Linked DNA regions of Homo sapiens: region 2 is linked to region 1. Evidence: fine-mapped expression QTL. Tissue or cell type: lung. Region 1 holds a variant in brackets; the other region holds the start of a gene. All regions are shown on one strand. Distances are from middle to middle. Region 1 overlaps EFNA5 (ephrin A5). Region 2 holds the start of EFNA5 (ephrin A5).

What was found.
Region 2: it holds the start of EFNA5, and the variant in region 1 is fine-mapped to the expression of EFNA5 in lung (TOPMed, PIP above 0.99).

The regions. Positions count from the first base shown.
Region 1 is chr5:107,499,817-107,511,596 of GRCh38, forward strand. The region is part of intron 1 of EFNA5 (ephrin A5); the gene reads right to left. Among named protein-coding and RNA genes, the nearest start is that of EFNA5, 170 kb to the right of the region's middle. The variant A/G (reference allele first, on the strand shown) is at 6,711.
Region 2 is chr5:107,666,084-107,677,863 of GRCh38, forward strand. It overlaps EFNA5 (ephrin A5), which reads right to left and starts at 4,854. Exons shown (of 5, transcript NM_001962.3): 1 at 4,406-4,854. The coding sequence starts at 4,530. RefSeq lists enhancers at 4,007-4,086, 4,487-4,616, 5,327-5,466, 7,207-7,706, 7,608-7,657 and silencers at 4,247-4,316, 4,887-4,936, 6,297-6,366, 7,738-7,817.

The sequences.
Region 1 (11,780 bases):
AGGGAGAAAAAAAATTACCAATATAAATGCATCAGGTGCAAATTACCAAGGTAAATAGGCCCATGGAGACTGTAAAGCTAGCAACACCAACTGGAATATCTGAGAGGGGCCAGCAGGAGAAAGCCCATGGGTCACAGTCTCAGTTCTGCAGTGTACTGTGTGTGTTTCAACCCGGATCATTCATCCTGCAGCCTGCAGAAAGGAATCCACAGCACAAAGCAGTTGTGATTTGGCATTGACAGTGTTCTAACTAATGCTTCAGTTGTAGCTTTTCTATTCCCCTCTCTTTTTATTCACCCAAATGCCACTCTTGGATAGTGTCAAAGCAGAACCTCCATTGTGAGAGACCAATGCAATATAATATCTCCAACTATAAGTTGATCATTAGTAATTATTTGTTCCCTGGAACTATTTATAATCTGCAATAAGGAAAAACTGCCACAAACATCACTATTAACTGTGGTCTGTAGGGCACGAAGGCTGATCTTTTACGTTTTCCCTACAATGTATACGTATATCTGCTAAAGAAAGTATTTGTAGCTCTGCATTTCTTCTTTCTGTTGCTCTTTACTGCAAAGTCTTTCTTGTTCTGTAATAATTTTGCCAGGGTAAGCCTAGTCCCACTGTAAGCTTCACATAAAGCAAAGACCTGTCATATACTTGTCTCTCCCAGAGTGCAGCACTATTTACTGACCTGAGTTCAATTTTTTTCTAGAAGAGAGCAGGCAAGGCTTTCCATTAGCCTGGCTTTGTTTCCACCCAACCCTATCCTCATATGGTGTGGCTGTCTCACCTCTTACCCTCTTATACATGTAGCCTGAATGCACACTTGTTAGTCTTATTTATTACCCTATTTGTGTACTGAAGCACATGTCCCTTAAAAATTAGCCTGCTCTACCCTGACTGGAACATGAAATTCTGCAGGCATCTGAGCATATATTCAAATATAATAAAAGGGCTATATTATAACAAAGGTCTTTAAGGGATATTTGCCTGGCCCTTAAATCACCTTGACTTTGTTTCTTCAAATAGCAAGTACCTAAAAAATATTCATTAAAAAAAAACAAAACAAAAAGGTTTCCTGTGAACATTTCAGCCAGGATTGTTCATCCTGAAGCCTGCAGGAAGAAACCTGTGAACAAGTGAGTGGGAGAATTCACAGTGGAGTCAGCTCCAGCTCCTAACTCTTACTATTTATTCATACCTGGTGTCGTCTTGGTTTTATGCTTCCTGTTTTAGAGCATGCATCAGGCTAGATAAGGACATATTGTGTGCATAGTATAAACTAATATGAGGACAACTTCTACAAGCCTTCTACAGCATATAGATCAAGTGTCATTCTTAAAGCCACAGGCCCTTGTTAAAACAATTTATTTGCATGGATTAAGCCTCACTTATAGATATTGACTCAACTATATGATTTTGTAAATATTTTTTTAAAATATTCTGTTTCTTACTTAGGATATTTCTTACCTCCTGCACAACACAACATCAACTATACAATCAATAAGATACAGTCTTTAGCTACAAATTAAGCTTCTTATTTTATCTGTGTAACAATCATTATGTGGTTTAATGATGATCTGCAGTCTTAAATACATTATATACTGTTATATCAGAGATGACATAAAAGTACAGATATTATAGCTTATGAAATCAGCCCCTCCTTAATCAGTTTGGCAATAAACCAAATTGCCCTGATTTAGCAAAGAAATTCTCAGAAACTATTTTTCTCATTCAACATTTGTGATTTTAATTCTTTAAAAAATATTTCAGTGTCTTATTTTGCACAACCATTCACTATTTGTTTGAAAAACTTAAAACTGTAATATCATTTTAATACAGTCATTATAAACTAAAAGTTAAGATACATACTATCGGCTACATTTCTGTTGTGGTATTTTAAGCCTCACTTTGTTGAAGCAGCAATTATTTTCATAACCTGAATTAACGAATGCTGATTTTGTACGTGAAAAGATGGACAGAAATGTCACACTTTAATTCACGCCATTAAACAAACAAAAAACGGCCATAAGGTCAAAATAATAGAACTAGATGAAAAAAGTAGTCGATCTAGAATCCTGTGAAATTTTCTCTGATTTAAACTGTTTCTTGCCTTAAAGAAAAGTACTGCAGCTGTGATACAACTATGAGCCCTCCTCCCTTTAAAAGCTGATGTCAGTGAGAAATACCCCATCTGATGGGTTTTCAAGATGTACACCGGGCATTGCCTACGGAAGTTAGTTAATTACACCAACCTGCGGCTGTTAGCAATGAGGACTGCCCCTCTTCACCCAACGTAGGGCAGAAACCAATCCTCTCAGTTCACCGATCTAATTCCAGTTTTCAGGCACACTGGCCATCCACTGCCTCCTTCCCTTCCCTCTCCAACTCTTAGAAAACGAAATGCAGTTAATTTATGTTCATTTTATCCATTTCCTCTCATGACTCACTGCAACAGGAAACTGCCGTCTCTGTTGTGTTTAGACCAGTCTCGTCTTAGCCACGAGCTAACAGTATCATCATTTAGAAAGATCCCTCATCATGCCACAGTCAACATCAAACTGTTCCTCGACATTCTGAATTTATCTAGCACATCTTCCCTATCTGATGCAAATGAACCGGCAATCATTTTAGGAAGCAGTGCCTTAAAGAATTGTGATCCTGACACAATTGCTGTGGCGGTTTACTCATTACATTACGAAGCACAGCTGTATCTTGTTGTTTCATCTGTGGGGCTTTTGACAGCACATAACTGCTGAAAAGCATGTACATGGGGTTGATATATACACACACATACATACATACTCAGGACGTGCAAAGGAGAACGTGGCCGTGCTCGAAGTGTATCAAACTATGACTTCTAAATTCCTTTCCATCAAATGCCAGTAGAAGCACTTGATAAATGGACCCTAGGAGAGCACTTCTCATTGCCTCAGGATGGAACGACTCGCAGGCATACGACACTCCATCAATACAGAGAGCTGGCAGATTGAAAGGCGGGAAGGACTATCTCTGATACGGTGCATCTGCTTACTAATAGCAGCAGCACTCCAACCCTCTTCCCATTCATTGCCTACAGGAACCACTCCTCAGAGAGGCACGCCAGTCAACAGATGGTCTCTGGCTAAGGTGTAATCAGGAGCAGCTTGCTAAATTTACCCAAAACAAATAGAATTACAGGCTTTTGCCCGAGTCTGAAATTGAATTGAGAACTTGGGTGGTGGATAATGGAAGCTAAAATGGAAGAGCTCAAAATGCATCACAGCATGTTGGGAAAGGGCGGGCACAGGGTGCAGTTTCAGCTGTGAACTCCACTGTTTACTACCAGGTCATCTATTGCCAATAAACTTGTCTACTATGCAGGATCGTTTCCCCTCAAGATCAAAGCTTCCAGGATTGGTAAAATTGTCACCAGTTAATGAAGTCATCTGCCTTCGGTGCACAGTGAACAAAATACTACCTGATGTTTTGAATATGTTTTGCCCAGTTGCAATGCCTTCACGTAAAATGTCAACAGTTCTAACCATCCTACTTTCATTAGCAGTTTTTATGTCCACTAAAAATCTGTCATTCAAAAGGTAAGAATCATTAAGGATTCTGAATAATGTGATCTTCTAAGAAGAGGTGTTCCGATGTCTATCTCCAGAATTCCTCGCTGTTTTCAATCATTCGTTGCTCAGAATACAGGCAACATAAAGCCTCAGAAATTGCCTGAAAAAGTCAGCATAAAATTAAGAGTAAATCATTTAACCTATGGCTATGTTTCACTACTTACGTAGTAAGAACTGTGCCACCCACACAAATCACTGTATCATGAAGCTTTAAAAGTAAATGAGGCAAAATATGTAAAAGCACTTAAATTATAAAGAGATAAGGTCTTAAGGATAAGGCTATTTGTAACCCAAGCTATCAGCAGTCACTTTAAAATTATTATCTTCATAACCATTAATATTTTTTATTACTAAATTGTTTACCCATTAAAAAGGCCATTAAAAAATTAAAAATTTCAGTTTCTAATATTTTATTGTTTTCTAATCTTCTTTGGAAATAAAAAGATGTGTATTTTGTATTTTACATCATTCAGTATTTGCAATGCAGAGCTTTTAAAATGTATTACAGCATGCATTGAATTAGCTACCTTTAAACTAATAATCAGGCAATTCTCCTCATTCTTCATGACTTAAAATCCCATTATGGAAAATTCACTTTTATACATCAATCAGTCTAACATTTTCAAACATCAGTTATATAAGAAGTATCTGAAGTACCTCCTATTTTCTTCGAGCATTTTGTTGTAAGGAACTCTGCCATGCAGAGAAGGAATCCCAAAAGAAAGGTCTTTTTTGTTCAGGATGAAAGTATTTAAAGAGAGGGTATTTTTTAAATTAACTAAAAAAAGAGCTTCATTCTTAAGGTTTGAATTACAGACTGACAAGGGCTAAAATATCTTTTAACATAATTATTTTTTAAAGTAACTGACTTGAAATGAAACTAGCATTTTTCTTAAATGAATGCTGTTAAGTAAAGCAAAATGTGTCCCTACACTCGAAGAGGATACATTTTTAGTGATATGTTATATATATAAAAAAGAACTAGATGCTAAAGCTACCTTACTAAAATATGTGTCTTCTCTATTTGGAGCTTTATCTGCTATTCTCTCTTCTTTTATAGAAATAGAAAATGCATTATTAATGTACAAATAATATGCATGCTTATAGGAACAAACATTTTGAGCTGCAGAATAAACTAATGAAAAGAGCACAGACAGATACAGATATCTAATTACTACATTACCCTGGGCAAATCATTTAACTGCTCTATGATTCAGTCTGCCCATCTGTAAAATCAGTGGAACAGCTTCCCTACCTATCCCCAAGATATTTGGTAGGAGTACATGAAAAAGTGTTGTCGAAGCCTATTTAGGCACCAAGCTTAAAAGGTCTGGCACATGTTTGTGAAAGTACAATTATAATGATTTTCATTACTATTCTAGTAGACTCTGAATTTTAATCTTTAGGAATAACCCTAATTATTTTATTTTAAAATGCTTCAAAAATATAGCTATAACAGAAAAACCTGTCATATAACTAGTAGTAAAATTTTGGCCCTATAATATCATCCTATTTATTATTCAATTATTGCTTCAATAAACCAATGTATGTATAAAAGGTAGCCTTTGTTTTTCCGTATCTTTAATGCAATTTGTTCTGAAAAACTACTGTGACATTAATAATAAAGGACAAGCTCTGTAAAGAAAAGGTGCCTAACAAAAACTTGGCAATGATCTCCATTCAAAGCAAAAATGCTATGAATTTTAAGATAAGGGACCTGTTATATGTTAAGTAAAAATATTCGTAGTTTATAATTTGTGAAGCAGTAGGCATTGCATAACTCTGAGAAAAAATGCTGTTCATTATATGAATGGCAATTTCAAATAATATCAAATGATTTAAGTTCAAAGGACTTAGGAAAGCTTCATGGCATCCTGTTATTAATTTCACAAAAATTTCTTTAGAAAAGAAACTGAGTCCTACATGAAAAATGTAAAACTACAAGGTGCACTGTGTACTGATTCTCCATGCAACAAATCTGCAAACATTGCCTAGGGCATGCTATATGGGAAATCTGGACAGCTGGAAATCATAGTAGACAAGGAGATTTAGGTCATTGATCTCAGAATTGGAAAATTTCCCCTAGTGAGCCAATATGAATCTGGCACATATCACTGATACACACACATACACCCCTCCTATATCCTCAAAAAAGTAGCATATCACTAAGAGATATCATTAGAAAATGTATGCAGTAATAGCAAAGCGTGTGAATATATTAACTGATTGCGTAGTGAAAATCTTCAATATTCAGTAAATATTCATTGGGTACCTCCTATGTACACAACACTGTGAGAATCAGTAGTAAGAGATATAATTAACATTTGTTAAGTACTTGCTATTCTACATTCTTTACCTAACTCATTTAATCCCCCTTTCCCATCTCTCTCTCTTTTTCTCTCCCCCCCACCTTCTCTTGGAGATAAAAAACAATTATGATCATCAACATCAGCATCATCCCCATTTTCCATTTGAGAAAACTGAAGCCTAACTGAAGTAGCTTGCCCAAGGTGATAGAGCTAGTGAGCGACAGAGCCAAGATTTAAACCCTGGCAGTCTGATCCAGTCTACACATTCAACCACTATGCTATATTGCTCTAAAGCACAACCACAGGGAGCCACAAGAAACACTTCAAGCTCTTGAGCACTTACGCTTTATTTGTGTACCTCTCACTGCCTGAAATGACTCCCAGCTTAGGACTCACCAGCTCCATGAACCCTTCCCAGATTTCCCTCAGGAACAGTTGTCTACTCCCTTCTCTGGTCCATCAAGATATCTTGTACATATTCCAAATTCTGTACTTATTGGAACTATATTATAACTATTTGTCTGCATGTTTGCTCTTTTTATTCGTGAGGCTTGGCTGAGAATTCAACACATAGTAAACATCCAGTAGAGTAAATGATTAACCTGTCATTGGAACATTACAATTTAGTTGAAGAAGTAGTCTGAACTCTATTGGTGTAAGTATTTGTGTTTGATAATGGCAAATAAGAATAAAGGTTACCTTAGCAAAGGTTGCTAAATTATGGACTGGGGTGAAGATAGGGCTCAAACCTCACTCTGATAGACCTTAAAGGATAGGAATGAATCAG[A/G]TGACTGGAAAAGAGGAGAGGCAATCTGGGGCCAGATGAGCAGGAGCAGGAGCAGGGGATTTGAGAAATGAGTGCCTGAGGCAGGTGTGGAGGGTGGGCAGCCCATTTAATGGCAAGCTAAGGAGCCTCAAATTTATTCTTAGGGCACTAGAGAGTCTTGAGCATGGAAATAACATGATCAGAAGAGCAAGGCAGGAAAAACAGTTTTGGCTGCAGGAAACACAAAGGTGAATAACAAAAAATATATAATATCTAGATTTTGAGGGTGAAACCTACTCAGAATCCTTCTTTAGTAAGGAAAAAGACAGCTGAAACATTCACCACCTGCTGAAAAAGGCTTGTCTCCAAGAAGCAAACTGTTACTAATAGTTTTTAATGTAAGTAAAAATTCATTAAACATTTATTGCTGCTTTATTATCCTACGGGCTAAGAATACAGAAATAATGCATCATCTTCAGGGATAAGAATCTAAATTTTTGAAAATGAAATACAGAATATGGATTAGAGAAGTAACATAAAATGATCAAAAGTTTGTATGTGAAGGTCAGAATGAGAGAGCTATTATTCTTATATAATATGATCTGTCAAAATAAAAAAAAACTTTTGTTCAAAAATAAATGATACAATCAGAAAATGAGAAAGGACATTAGAAGTAATCTAATCCCACAGCATTTTAGAGATGAGAAGAATGGGAGGACCAGAGAAGTTAAATGATCACCTCCAGGTCACACAGAAAGTTGTCAGTAAAATATGGATTACAAATCTCATCTCCTAACTATGGTTGACTGCTTTGCCTCTGCTGTTTTTCATAAAGCTATAAATATGACTACACTAGAAAAATAATTCTGGTATATTTTGGTATAAAACAAATTATAAGTCTTTAATAACATCCATGTAAACTTTAAAAGATTAAAACAATAGAGCCAATGAAAATGGATCATTCATTCATTTAGCAGCCTATATTAATTAAGAACCTAGCCAGGGAATGCAGGAATGGATGAAGGGTTTGGATATAAATAACGGAAAATGGCAAGGCGTGGTGGCTCACACCTGTAATCCCAGCACTTTTGGAGGCCAAGGAAGGAGGACCGCTTGAGCTCAGGAGTTTGAGACCAGCCTGGGCAACACGGCAAAACCTCATCTCCTAAAGATAAAAAAAAAAATTAGCTGGGCATGGTAGCGCAGCTGTAGTTCCAGCTACTCAGGAAGCTGAGGTGGGAGAATCACTTGAACCCAGGAGGTCGTATTTTGGATATGCTGAATTAAATATAAAATTAATATCACCAGCATTTTTAATTTCTTGGTAAAAATGTAGCTATTAGAAAACTGAAAATTATATACATGGCTCACATATTTCTATTGGACAATGCCACTCTGGAGAATGAGCAAAGATTAACCAGCTGTGGGCTGGTGCATGCTTAGAAAGGCCAGGAAAGAGGACAAGGTGGGATCTAACCATTAAAGGATAAGAATCTGAAGATTTTTTTTGAAAGACTAATTTTCAGGGAATTGTGGGGAAGAAAGTCTCACAGAAAAAAATGTGGGTAGTTACCCAAAAGTTTCTCCCATCATCTTTGGAACTTTGGCCAAATCAGGTGATGCCTTGGGCAAATCAGGTCTCCTTCCTCCTGCCACTGAACTAAACTTGCAGTTTATCCTTCTGTTTGTTCTCTGTGGAACTGTGAGCCAAGTGAAGTGCAGATGGATGGCTTCTTGGAACAGAACTGAAAGCATGCCAGTACTTAAGTTAGAATAGCATCCACCTTCAGTGACCACAGTTATTATGTGAACACCGTAGGTCCTCACGTGTGAGGTCACCGTATTATAGAAGCAGCTCTCTGGATAATTATTCACACAGACACAAACACACACACAGACGAATGTCATCAGAGTTTTTTGCTGTAAAACACTATTTCCATCTGTGTCTTCTGCTGCATAGTTTAATTCCTGTATATGTCTTTTAAATAAAAATGTGGGCCTCATCTGTGTTACACCAACCTTGAAGACATGAACTGCAGACAAATTTTCATAATAACTTCAGGGCTATCAAACTGGCTAGAATTGAAATATCAAGGTCAGCCCTGCCATTTTCAAATTATCTTCAGCCTTGATATAACAATAATCTTAATTAAATAGACTTCTAAAAACTAAGTGTAAGTCAAGCTTGAACCATCACTATTTTCAGAGTATACTAAACAGCTAGTAATACAAGTATAAGCAATAAATTATTCTTGTTTTTATAATAATGAGAAAAAAGTTCTAGAAGTTAATTCCACTTAAAGGTGTTTCAATAATTAATAATTTCATTTTTCTCATGTCCAATGTCATTACAGAATTAGGTATATTCATTACTTGAAACATTTCATTTAATCATTCACTTATTTACTTATTGCAGTGTTCCTTTATTGTATTGCAGTTATTTGTCCTGACAGTTTATAGTTCCTCGATTAAATGGATATTTTAGGTATTCTGGTTTTAATTACCTAGGAGCAAACTTCAGGTTTCAAAGTTGCATTTGGACAAAGTGCTATTCCTATAAATTTATTTATAGGATGGCTTCGCTCTTGAGTTAATCAGAATTTGTGTCACTTACATAACAATGGTGACTAGCGTGACATGTTAGTAGTCTCTAATGCAATTTTGCTAAAAATTTTCTTATAACCCATTAATACATAAGAGCAGATGTCTTTAGATACCCTTTTACAGACTCTTTAAGATGACTATTTGTTCTTTTCATCTGAAAGAACCAACACAAAAGAGCAAAAGTGAGTGTCAACTCTTTTTCTTTTCCTTTTTTTTTTTTGTTTTCTGAGGTGGAGTCTCACCCTGTCGCCCAGGCTGCAGTGCAATGGTGCGATCTCAGCTCACTGCAACCTCTGCCTCCAGGATTCAAGCGATTCTCCTCCCTCAGCCTCCCGAGTAGCTGGGATTACAAGCATGTGCCACCATGCTTGGCTAATTTTTTTTTTTTTTTTTTTGTATTTTTAGTGGAGACGGAGTTTCACCATGTTGGCCAAGCTGGTCTTGAACTCCTGACCTCGTGATCCGCCCGCCTTGGCCTCCCAAAGTGCTGGGGTTACAGGCATGAGCCACCACACCCGGCCTGAGTGTCAACTCTTTTTACACCCCTTAAAAATATACTCATATACAGATGAATGGTTATAAATGATTTAAAAACGTAGATGAGGAACACTGGAATACGGCCTTCACGAGGGCAGAAATTTTTGCCTATTACATTCATTAGTATATTTCTAGAACCCAGAAGAGTCCTTGATCCTAGCAGATGCTCAATAAATATCTGTGTATTGAATGGCACATAATGGACACTCAGAACATAAATGTTTAATGACTGAATAATTCATGGAAATGATTACGCCATTAGTTAATAACAATATGCTCCATGATCATCATTTCACTGTATGCTACTGTCAAAGGCATTTGAATCACAGCAACTCCATCTTGAATAAGGGCTATGTAAAATGAGGCTGAGAGCTACTAGGCTGCTTTCCCAGGAGGGTAAGAGATTCTTAGCCACAGGATGAGATAGGAGGTCAACACAAGGTACAGGTCATAAAGACCTTGCTGATAAAACAGCATGTGGTAAAGAAGCCAACCAAAATCCACGAAAACCAAGATGGCCATGAATGTAACCTCTGGTCATCCTCGCTGCTCATTATATGCTAATTACAACACATTAGCATGCTAAAAGACACTCCCACCAGTGCCATGACAGTTACAAATGCCATGGCAATGTCAGGAAGTTACCCTACATGGTCTGAAATGGGGAGTAACCTGCAGTTCCAGGAATTGTTCACCCTTTCCCAGAAAACTCATAAATAATCCACTCTCTGTTTAGCCTATAATCAAGAAATAACTGTAAGTATCCTTAGTCTAGCACCTCAAGCTGCTGCTCTGCCTATGGAGTAGCCATTCTTTTATTCCTTTACTTTCCTTTCACTTTACTCTAGGGACTTGCACCAAACTCCTTGCGAGATCCAAGAACCCTCTCTTGGGGTCTGGATCTGGACCCCTTTCTGGTAATACTACAATATGAATACTTTAAATGGTGGTTACCAGGAAGTCTTAAATGTTTATGACAAGTAGGTGCTTAGTACGTTTTCTTGAATATATGAGTAAAGAAATAAACTAGAAAGACTGGGTCACAATTTAGAAAATAAGTCATGAGGTGCTGAAGACCAGAACAGCCCAATCTTTTTTTATAAACCTCCTGGATGCAAGTTTTAACACAGTCTCAAAAAAGTTGTGATCAGTTTCTCCAAAGCTACACACTGAGACTAGGATGACAACGAGCTACCTACTCAGGATTTTGCAAGGACCAAAAATCTTTTCTTACTTTACAATACTCTCAAACAGAAACTATTTTAAACTACATGGTTAATTCAACCTTGTGGACTGGATGGTCATCAAAATGATTATATAATTATTTCAACATAGTTGCATTTCTTTCTTTTTCTTTGTGTGTGTGTGTGTGTGTGTGTGTGTGTGTGTGTGTGTGAGACGGAGAGTTTTGCTCTTGTTGCCCAGGCTGGAGTGCAATGGCACGATCTTGGCTCACTGCAACCTCTGCCTCCCAGGTTCAAGTGATTCTCCTGTCTCAGCCTCTCTAGCAGCTGGGATAACAGGCATGCGCCACCACGCCTGGCTAATTTTGTATTTTTAGTAGAGACAGGGTTTCACCATGTTGGTCAGGCTGGTCTCGAACTTCTGACCTCAGGTGATCAGCCCGCCTCGGCATCCCAAAGTGCTGGGATTACAAGAGTGAGCCACTGCTCCCGGCACCATAGTTGCATTTCTAAATATAAAATCCCCACGAAGTTTGAAAAGATGATGAGATCAGGGATATTTGAACACATTTTTAAAGTAAATGGATGTATGGAATATTATGATAGAATATAGTAGTAGTGGTAGTCAAGCATGAAACTGGTAGAGAAACAAAAATATACATGTAAAATAAACTCAGTATTTTAATAATAAAATAAATGGTATCCTAAAAAATACACTGATTTTGTAAATCTATATTTTGCTATTGTGACTTTCTATGAATATCCA
Region 2 (11,780 bases), 170 kb after region 1:
GTAAGGACAATCTAAGTTTTGTGATGAAACTCATTCAAGACCAAGATAAACTTTCAATCTTTACTCACAACAAATTCTTAGATTTAAACCATGCTGATTTCATTTACTTGTCAGTGAAAAGGTCACAGTGCCGGCATACTGGTATACATATGTCAAAATGATGATGGCTCAGATTTTTTTTAAATGGAGCAACTAAATTTTGAAAGAAGAAAAATACTCAAGGGAATATGATTAGGAAAAAAAAAATGTTACTACTTCTCTCTTCTTAGCCACATACATTTGACCTGTACTGCCAGAGGACTTGGGAGTGTTGACCTAGAATTCACATTACTTTCACAACTCCAAGATTACGTGTTAACAAAACTAAAAGGTGTCAATTACCTGCTACTCTAATATGAAATGTTTAATATACAAGTCCCTACAAGAATTGAAAAAGTCCAAAGAAAACATGATTAGGTTAAAGTTTAGTAAATCCTTCATGACTTACACAGATATTTTCCTCTTAAGAGTATAACCTTTTAAATTGATGATACTCAAACCTTAACAGAAGCAAAGCACCAGGTTGAGGACGACTGGTATTCCTAAAAGTGTGTTGGTCATATTTGCTGCTGTATTATTTGACTATTGCATCAATAATGCCAACCAGTAGGAGATATGTTTAATTACCCTAATATCATTTCAGCAAATAGTCAAAATAATCCAAGAAGAACTTAGAATACGCACATGATGTTTAAAAGTATATTCTTATTAGAAGCACCAAACTGCTTATGGCATACTTCAGATGAAGAGGCATGTTCTTAGTATTATGACTCTCTTTATAAGCATAGCTACTAAAGGAGAATGTAAATAAACTTTTATTACTGGAAGTCTTTTTAACTTTATTTAAAAGCTTTTTACATTCTTAAAGAAATTAAGGACAAATAGTTATATTCTTCTTGATGTGGATTTTCATTACTCAAAGTTACTTGGTGACATTCCAGTTTAGAATTCAGAATAATATTAAAAGGATGATTTGATTATTTACACTTTTAGGTAAAACTTATACAAGTTTTCAAATTTTGGAAATATAGAAGATCTATTTAGGCAAATGTTATCATATATTTCTATTCAAACTGATAGTTCTGAGTGGCTATTTCACAAATTTGTGCCAATTCAACACATAAAAAAATCAGTTTGGTCCCCTATCCAATAAATACTACCAACTAAAAGTTATCAGCATTTGAAAACTCAGTATCCACTTCTCAGAAGTGAATACCTGGGTACATAGATTGTAACAGTAAAACTATTCTGACAGCAAATAAATTTAATATTTTTTCCCGTGAAACTACATCTATAGATGCTCATTTATCAATGGAGAGGCAGTAATGAAACTCCATGTAGAAGATAAACTCCTACCAGATACACAAGTGACACAAGTTACACAGTAAGATACTGTACTTAATCCCTGTGATCAAGATACATTTAATTCTGATTTTACCTAAACATAATTTCAAATTGAATCTGTTAGTATAAGCTAAAGTAGATTTACTTCGTTTAGACACAGTGTACATTATCATCAGTTTAACGTGCCCACTGAACATATTATATTCTGAGGGAAAAATAAAAAAAATTATTTAAGTTGCAATTAAAGTCCTCTATTCTTTTTTCAAAAGATTGAAGTCTTACTAGTTTAGCAAAATTTTAACAGATAGGTTCTATATAAAGACACAAAGCATGGCTAGCTTACTTTATGAAATAACATACAGGAAAAGGAATTGCACAACAGTGAATTTATAAAATTTACTAAACCCGTGGAAATTTTCTGAAATATTTTCTTACTATTGTTTGTGGAAAACTGTTAGTTTTTATTTTTAAAATACTTATTTGGCATGTGGCCTCTTATATCCAAGTTGACTTTTCTTAATGCATCAAAAGAGCAACATCTTATTCAACACTTCAGAGATAAAACTGCCTACTTTTAAAATATTGTTTTTAAAGTAAGTTTTTAACTGTGATAACATACCAAGATAAATGTGTCCATAAATTCCTAAGAATAATAAGTGTTAGGGCTGTATCTCTTGGGGTTAAGAGGGGTACATCATTCTTTCTTTTGGCCATTATCAAACTGATAATGATCAAATAGAAAGGTAATTCTACAAACCTGAAGTTAGAATACCGATTTAGAAATACTCTTGGTATTTTAAAATTCTGCAGATTAACTTTGTCTGGGCAGGTTCAAAGCCTCCATGGCATCCTGAGCAGAAGAGTTTTCTGCAGGCAGGGCAGATCTATTAAAAAACATGACCTGTGACAAAAATCAATGTGCTAATCTCAAACCAAACAACAGTATCAAAAGCACAAAACAGAGATAACCTAAGATAAAATGTCCTCAAACTAACTCAGACTAGCTTGACAGGTTAAGAAGGGGGGTTAAAGTAGGGGTGTTGCTGGTTCTTTCCGTTTTAACCCAGGAAGACTGGAACACCCAAGTATCCAAATAAATGAATGCCATGAGAAAAAGATCACAATGTGGAGCTTGGTGTGGGAAAGAAAAGACAACCGAGAGCAAGATATCCCAAATTCAAAGAAACTATTTCAGTGTTGCTTTATTTAATAAGGTGCTAAAGTTCAGAGATACAAATTTCTGCTTCGTATATGCTGCCTAATAAAGCACAAACGGGGAAAAAAAACTAACCAACATAATGAGACTGGCTTTTAACACCATCACAACTGGAAAGCTTGCTCTATTTGTCTTGTCAGCTTTAATAAAAGGCATCTCTCCTCTGGCAGGATGGCTTCTTTTTCTCTTTTCCTAATAGTGGTAAGTGGCATGTCAAAGAAGAAATCGCTTCCCATTCCACCACCCACCTCCAGGAGACTCTTGTTTTTTGAACCAAACTTTCAGGAATATCTCCACTCCTGTTCAGCGGTTCATTTAGGACTTGGGCGGCTACCTGAGTAAGACTATCTTGGACTAGCGGGATAGGGGGAACTCCCTCCTGGTTCTGTAACCGGCGGACTGCTTGTGGGGAAATCTTCCCATCTTCATCTGCGCTGACATTATTCAAGCAGGGAATCCCTCTCTTGCCTGCATGCTGAGGGGAGGCTGGAGGCAGGCGGAGAGGGCCCGCAGGAGATAGAAAAAACTGGAGGCGCCCACCGATACCCTCTCTCCTGGAGCCCGGGGCGCGCACCAACTCTTAGGCTAACCCCTCGGCCTCCCGCCTCTCTCTTCCCAACTTCCACTCCAGCCCAGTGAAAAACCTGTGACTTTAGATGCAATCGGTACTATTAATAAATAGCACCTAGGAGGGCACCGAGACCGGCACACAGCTGGAAGCTAGCCTCTGTCCCAGAGAAAGCAGTGCGGTATGGGCCTAGCGGGGCCGACTTCTGTGCACAGGCCGGGAAGCAATAAAGGTTCGGAACTGCTCCAGACCCGGAGGACCCCGCCGGGCACTCTGGATAACCTCCCCACTCCACTTCCAGGGTCCGAAAACACGGGACGTCTGCGACTGGCCGGTGTCCAGCACGCGCACTAGGACCGCCCCCGGCGCCCACCTCTAGTCTCCCGCATACCCGGCGGGCTTCGGGACGCCTACAAATCGGTTCCAGGTAATCGCGCGCGTTCCTCCGGCAGCACATCGCCAGGCCGCGGGCGAAGGGCTCCCACCTCCTGGCTCGGCCAACTCTGGCAGCTTGTTCTGCACACATGACGTAACCCGGCATTAGATCAAACTTTCTGGCACCTTGAACCCACTGGGGTGGGTGGAGGGATGGAGAAGATGGGAGAATCCTCTCCACTGCCAGGCGCGCCGGGCCCAGACTGACTCAGGGGCCGAATGATTTCCTCGCAGTTGAAGAGGAAAATAAAAACCTAAAGCTTCCGCTTCCCAGCCCCCCTCACTTCCCCCAGCCCGTGCGCTCTCTCTGCGCGCACCGGGAAAAGAGAAGGGAAAATTAAAATTAAAAAAAAAAAAAAAAAAAAAAAAACTTTGGGGGATGTTTGGCGGGTTCTCTCCGCAGTCCCTGCGGACCCACGCTCCAGGAAGGAGCTCCCGGCTGCGCACACTGGGGGCTCCCCGCGCCGGGAACCGGATGCCAGCCAGATGCCGGGGCTGGGAAGCAGAGAAGTCCCTACTCCCCGGCTCCCGCCCTTTTCCGAGTCTCCCGGCGCCCCGCAGAAGCAGTTGGTCTAGGCAGCCCCGGGGACTCCCAGGGGTACCTGGCCTTTCCGCGGCGGCTTAACAAAGAGGGGCGCGACGCGAGCGCTTCCCGCCGACGCCTCAAGCCATCAGCGCCCGGGCGACGCAGGCTCCGAGGGTGCGCGCCGCCAGCGGTTGGTGCGCGCCGATCCCCGCCGCCGCTCCTTCCGCAGGGCCCCGAGGCCCGGGTAGCCCTGGCTCTCCGCCTGTTATCGGCTTACCTGGGGTTGCTGCTGTTCCAGTAGACAGCGTAGCGGTCGGCGACGGCCTTGGAGCCCGGGTCCTGGCTGAACACACACATCCAGAGCACCAGAAACACCAGCGTCAACATCTCCACGTGCAACATCACGCCTGGCCAGCGGCGGAGCCCCCGACGCGCCACTCCGGGGAGAGAGCGGGGATCCGGAGGGAGGGAGGCAGGCAAAGGGACAGAGAGAGAGCGGGCGCCAAATAAATATGAATAAATAAAAATGAAAGTGGGCGAGAAAGGAAAGAGGCGCCCACCAAGCTGGGGAGGGGTAGGAGAGCGAGAAGAAAAGAAGGCGGTGGGATGGGGGGTGATAAAGACAAACTCGCACCCCCACTGGAGGGTTCAGGAGGAAAAAGGAATCACAAGATGGAGAGAAGCGTGCGTGTGTGTGGTGGCGGCGGCGAGGGCGGGGGAAGAGGTGCCAAGCTGTGTCTCGGGCGGCGGCGGCAGGCCGGTCACCCCGGGAGAGGGAGGTGCGCGCCGGGCCGGGCGGCTGCAGCGCGGGTCGGGGCAGGCGGCGGCGCGCGCTGCACAGTCACCGGGAGTTGCGCGCCGCAGCCGCGGGGAGACATACACCGGCCCGCCGGGCCCGGCTCAGCGTCGGCGCAGCAGGCTACGCACGGCTCCGCCACCGCCCGGGGCCCTCGCACTGCGCCACGCTTCGCTCCAAGTTACTTTGGCGGCCGGTGGGAAACTGCAGGAGAAGGGCGACGTGCTGATAGAGGGCTTCGCGCTTGTGGTCCCGGGAGTCTGAGAACCCCTTTCCTCAGCCTCCTCTGTGCCTTAGCGGGGCGACCCCCAGAAATCTCAGAGGAGTCGTAAGTGCTGCGGTACCGGGCGGTGCGCCGAGAAGGGTGGGGATCCGGAGCCGCAACCCAGCCTTGTCGGTGTCCTGGAACTGGTTAAGCGGCAGCTGCGCCGGCTTTCGAAGCGGTCTTGCCTCGAAAACCTCAAAGAAAAGTTTGGCTCTTCGCGTCTTCCGGCAGGTCCCCCAGCAGAGTCGGAACGCGGCGGTAGCGGAAGAGGGCACCCCGGGGGCTGGCCGAGCCTCGGGGATTTCTCGCGCGTGCTTTCCTTGGCTGGGTGTGGGTGCACCACAGTGAATGAAGAGCAGAGGTTAAGACCAGCCGGCCTGGCAGAGCTGGGATTCCTAAACCTGCAAGACGACGCCAACCCAACTGTTCGGCTGGAGAGCGGGAGGGGAAACAATCACTTTCAAATGGATCCCTCCAACTCCTGGATGGGCCGATGTCAGTCTCCGATCGCCTTCCGAGAGGGAGACTGAGCCCCCACACGCGGTGCCAAGAGCCCGGGGTGAGCTCTCAGAAGTGTCCCTGCGACTCCAGCGGGTCCAAGCCTAGCAACTTGTAGAGATGCATCAATCAGTTTGAAATGGGAAAAGAGGAAAAAAAAAAAGCGCACGAGCGAGTGGCACCTCCCCGATGACTACATCAGAAAACCTTCCCGATCCTCCCGCAGCTGCTCCTCTTTCCCTCCTTAGGCACAGCAGCAACAGAGGTGAAAACCACAAACCGAATCCTAAAACCCCTACCCAGGCGGGAAAATAAATAAACTTGAGTGCAGCAGCAGCAGCACGAGCAGCCCAGGAGGAATTGAAACGACTGGCAAGAAGTGGAAAGGGTTTTGTAAAAGTCAGTTTTGCAAAAGAGGGGGAAAAAAAGAGAGCGAGAGAAAAAATGCTTTATGGGAAAAAAAATCTCCTCGGGCACGCCCCCTCGTTAATGACTTGCGTGGAAAGCCGACAGCGGCGGCGACCCAGTGGCAGCAGCCTCAGCAGAGCGCGAGGCCGCACGCGTGAACGTGGACGTGGGCGGGGGGATGGGGCTCCGCCCGGGCGTGTTGCGCGGGACGCGGGACGGGCGGGCGGCGCGAGCGCGGGTGTGAGCTCCGGACGAAGCAGGGGGAGGTGCCGCCAGCCCGCGCCCAGCCAGCGCTGCTGCCGCTGCGGCCCGGGTCATGTGGACTGTCTTTTTTTTTTTTTTTTTTTTTTTCCTCCTTCCAAGCAGTTTACTTGGGAAGGGTGGGAGCGCGGTGGGGGGATAGCTGGAGCAACCAGTCAGGGAACGGCCTACTGTTTGCTTACAGATTGGGGGTTTTTCCTCTCTCTTTACTCCAACCGGATTGGTTTGCTCCACGAGAAAGAGGCGTTTTCCTAATCTCCCTTCCCCACGCCTCCTACCCCCTCCCCCGCCCCACCTTCTAGAAACCTGACTAATTGAATTACTGGGAGTGCCGAGGCGCCCTCTCCTGCGCCGGAGCCCGGCAGCCACGTGTAACCCTTTGGGTGCTGAATTCCGTCTGGGCTAAGGAATGATTTGACATCTTTTTACCTGGGAGTAGGGTCTTTCGATTTTAAAGGAACCTGTGCCCACCCTTTGGCTGGAGAGCCGGCATCTGTCTCTGGTGCCCCGCAGGTGACGGATGGGCTGGAACGGAGCCTCAGGGAGTGCGCGTTCCTGTCCATTCCACCCGCTCTCCACGCCGCACGCTGCCTGGCGCTGGGTTATCTGGAAGTCTGAGCACCCCTCCTGTGCCTTTCAGCCCTCCTCTTCCCACTTGGGATTTAAAGATTCTTGGGCAGGAAGCAAGTTTTCTTTAAAGTGATGCTCTGAAAACACGTTTTTAAAAATCAGGCAAATCACAGTTTAAAGTGATTACAATTCAGCGCGAACCTTCCACAGAGAGGAAATGAATGCGGCAGACGAGCCCTTCAGAAATAACCTCACACCTCTTCCATTTCAACCTTGAGGGTGATTTGCTGCCCACTCCCCAAAGAATAAACGCCTTTATCGAACCCGGTGCGGAAAGAAATGAGGGCCGGGGGCGGGGGCTGTGGGAAGAAAAGCAGTTCCTTTATTGTTGGAAAAGGCCCCTCGGTCCTGGACTTCAAGGGCAGGTTGCAAGCCTGGTCTTCAGCCGCCACTGAAGAGCGATCTCCTGGCAGCGAGACTGTCCCAGCGCCTCGGGACGCGTCCCCACTGTCGTCCAGCGCCCAGGAAGTGAGCCCGACGCCTGCTCTGCGGGGCCACAGGCCCCCGAGACCCGCCCTTAAGGGGTCCGCGGGCTCGGGAGCAGCGGTATTTTTTCTCATGTTCCCTAGGGAGTTTTCTGCCTTAGTGGGAAGGGCAGATCCCCAGGAGAAAAAAGGCAGTTTACTTTTGCTCCCACACCTGCCTGCACTCCTTTTTACTTATTAGCCCAATAAAATCAAATCTCACGTTCACCCTCCTGCGCTTTCCAGTCCTCAGACGGGATTTCCAGGCGCTTCAGAGCTGTTTAGAAGCGTCCAGACGCCCTCCAGTGGTGGGCCTGCAATCCGCACCCAGCAGGGGCATTGCCTGCCGCTCAGGCCGGGTTGAATTTGATGGGAAATCTAGGGCTATGACCAATAAAGACTCGAGAGGAAAAGAAACAGTTCATAGGGGCACGGAGGTACCTGGATGTTATGGGCTCTTGGCTAAAAGTTAAGTCGTTTTTCAATTACAGTAATATTTCCTATCTGAAAAGATCCTGAAATCGTCCTAGGAAAGTAACTTATATTTTGTGACTAGATACAAATTGCAATCTGTACAATAATGGACTTTACCACAAACCAACCATCTGCCTAATTATTAAAAATTGAAATTCAGAATGTCGACACAAATGCTCCTCCATCATCTGTATGTTTCACAAAGTTCCAGCAGTGAGAAAGAAGTGGGGAAAGAAGTGAGAGAACCAATGGATAAGCTTTTATTTTTCAAATCAAATTTTCAGTTAAAATGTTATTTGCTTTTTTCCCTGGTCTGTAATCTTGCTGATGTTCAAGTTCTTGGCCCATTTTAGGGTGTGTGTTTTTTCTGTTGCAGGAAAGATGGATTTGTTTCCTTAGCTTTTCTTATAGTGGCTCTAATAGGTGCTCATATGACAGAGACAGTTTTGCAGGAAATATTCTGGACCCTTTTAAGAGATATGTGTATCTTTAAAAAGAAAATTCACGACTCCTGTCTAGGGTAAAATGCTGATCCTCACTGAAGAGTCTTTTTAGTCAGGGAACTATCAGGTAACAGGGAGCTAGCAAGCTGGCTTCCTGTGGCATCAAAGCTGAAAAAAAGGTGAAGAAAAAGAAATGGTATCCACTCATTTCCCGTTTGAAACACATACAATAACCAAATGGGAAAATTCAATTATATCACAAAAATATGGATGTCCTTATATTTAAATATCTCTACTATTTAAAGTTTGAATAGTCCCATATTAAACAGAAAAAAAAGTATACATTGTCCTCTTCCATAAAGTGATTCATAAGATTGGAATAAGATGTTGAAATTCGCGGCTGTTCATAACATAACTCAAATGTCTATGTGAAACAATTCATAAACCTAAATCAAATGACTCTGGGATTATGTGCCTAAGTAATTATTGGTATGGAAGTTACTAGTCAGCAGGATGATAGATACAGTAAGTCCTTAATGTCAGGGATATGTTCTTGGAAATTGTGACTTTAAGCGAAGTGGCATATATAAGGAAAACAATTTCACCATAGGCTACTTGATACAAACAAGAGTTAAATTCCTATGCATATCTCCGGTCACAAAAACATCACCAAACTTCCAGATAAAGACCAAAACACTTCTAATGTTAAACATTGAAATAAATGTGAGCTAGACATACATTTGAGAAAGATTAATAAAAACAAGTAAGATCATGTAACCAATTTTTCCATTTCAGGATTGCAGGTGGCCGGAGTTCAGGGCTCAAGGAGGAAAGTAACCCTGGACAGGACACCCTTCTATCCTGGGGTGCACTCACACTCACACCCACACTCACGCATACTGAGAATATTTAGATATGTGCACAGCTTAGACACAACCTAGCGAGCACAGCTGTGGGTTGTAGGAGGAAACCAGAGTACCCGGAGAAAACCCACGCAGACATGAGGAGAATGTGCAAACTACTCACAGACAGTGGCCATGGCCTGGAATCGATTTTTTTTCTCATCACCATTATGACGAAGTGACGTTCAACCAAACAGCGTTGAGGACCTGCTGTACTTGAACAGAGTTTGAAGAGCTATATTATTAACTGTACACTTACCGTTAGATAATGTGACTTTGTCTCTTCAGGAAAGCATTCATGTGATTTAAATTTATACAAATCAACATTATATAAAATAATTTTATTATAATTCGCCCAGTGTCACAGAAGCAATGACTTTTAAACGACTTTAAATGCCCTTTAGAATGTAAGTATTTTGCCAGGTATAGGAGGAGGTGAACGTATAACAAAAAGAGAACAGCAAGAACCTAAAAACATGGGGACAAAAAAATGCAGACAGTGTTCAAACGCTTCGAGTTTGACAAGACAATGTTGTAGGGAGCTGAGACCTGAAAAAATAGGTTGGTAATGGACGATAAAAGGGCTTATCTGCAATTCTGTTTCCATTTAAAGCTATAGGCCACTGGGTGCGCTGGTGGGTTTAAAGCAAGTGCCATTGAAGCAATAATTTATATGCCCCAAATTAAAGCACAAATAGGAATTTATGCGTTTATTTAATTTTTGGGGCTTGAACTACCTTGATCAGTGTTCTAACCTTGGCTACAAATTAGAATCACCTAGGGAGCGTTAAAAAACAAACAAACAACAACAACAACAACAAAACCAATACCAGGGCTCCACTTCCTGTTTTAGTTGGTTAGGAGGGGGACTTGGGATCTACAATTCTTAAAAGCTCTCCAGGGAATACTAGTGAGCATAGAGGATTGAGAACCACTGATCTCAATAAATAACCACTGGTAAGTTATTTTTACCTTAACTAATATTTCAGGCAAAAGTAAGTTCTGCACTTACTTATCTGGAGAAGTAGCCCAATTCACCATTAAGGCCAGAATATTGATACCTTAGAGAATTTCATGATCTCTATTAATGTGAAGTGACACTGATACTTTTAAATAATTTTTACATGGCACAAAATTATCTGTGAGTGCCAACTCCAAGATGTGGTTGCAGGGCAAAGCTTAAATATGGATTAATCTTATTTTTTAGACTAGTTTTTAATTTGAATTAGCTGCCACCCAATAGAAGTAGAGTTCTATAGTCTCAGGGTGCCTAGACAAATAAATGAAATAAGCTGGCAAATCAAATTCCTCAGTCCTAAGCAACTTTTAATATAGCAGTTAAATTAGAACTAGTATCCAGAAGAGATCATAAAGAAAATAAACTCTAGAGCAAAAATTAAATAATAATTAAACACAAAACTTTCTAACAGATGACTAACATAATGGTATTTAAGCTAACTCTGCTATTTTTCTAGAACATTTAGAATAAATTCTGAAGCTCCAAGAAGCTAAGATCCTATCACCAAACTGTGACTCAGCTGTCCTGCCCACAGAATGTTTGAAGTTACCAATAAAGCACTCTCTCTTCCCCACCTGTTTTTATAACAAGTTCCTAAGAATCTTCAGAAATAACTCTTTGCTGACTTTTCTCTCCTCAGAGACTTTAAGAAAAGCTCCTTTTCTATCCCTGATCTAGTTATCTCTTCTGTGTACAATCTTAAAAAAAAAAAAAAAAAGACTATAAAGTATTACATCTCTCCTTTCATTCCTGTGACCTTCAACTTCCATCATGGATTTTCTCCCTTTTCCTCATTCTCCCCTTCCTTTTCTGGGGTTTGCTAGAATTTATTTCCTTAAATCTACAGAGAAACAGAAGCAGTCCTGCAAGTTGCTGCAATATTCTGAAAGAGGCATTTTAAAATTTTTTTATCTATGAACTTAGTCTATTTGTTGTTTTGCCCATTTCAAAGCATATTTTAAGTAAAACCAACATAGTAAACTTCTTAAACACACAGAACTTTCAGCAGTCATTTTGGTAAACAACATAAACCATATAATTAGGCACATTTGTAAATATGTGTTATGTTTCTATGTATCACAAATGCGTATGTGCTCCTATGAAATTTTTTTAAAAAGCAAGCAAGGACTGGTTAATGTAACCAATTTCCACATCACTTTTCATTATCTAGATTTCAGTACATATACCATACATACAGTTATGTGACCAGTTTTCAACCAAAAAACTTACATTTGTAAGTAATTTTATTCCCATAAGCCATTTTCAGGTTGTCTTTTGCTAACAAAATGTGCATATACATTCTACACCTCTGTATTTCCCTCATCAGATTTTTTAATTAAAATTACCAAGTAAAGTTTATCTGTACTTTACGAATCTAATAGATCAATCAGCATAAAGTATATTGTTCTGGCTGGTGTGGTAGCTCAAGCCTATAATCCCAGAGAATTTGGGAAGCCGAGGCAGGAGGATCACTTGAAGCCAGAAGTTTAAGA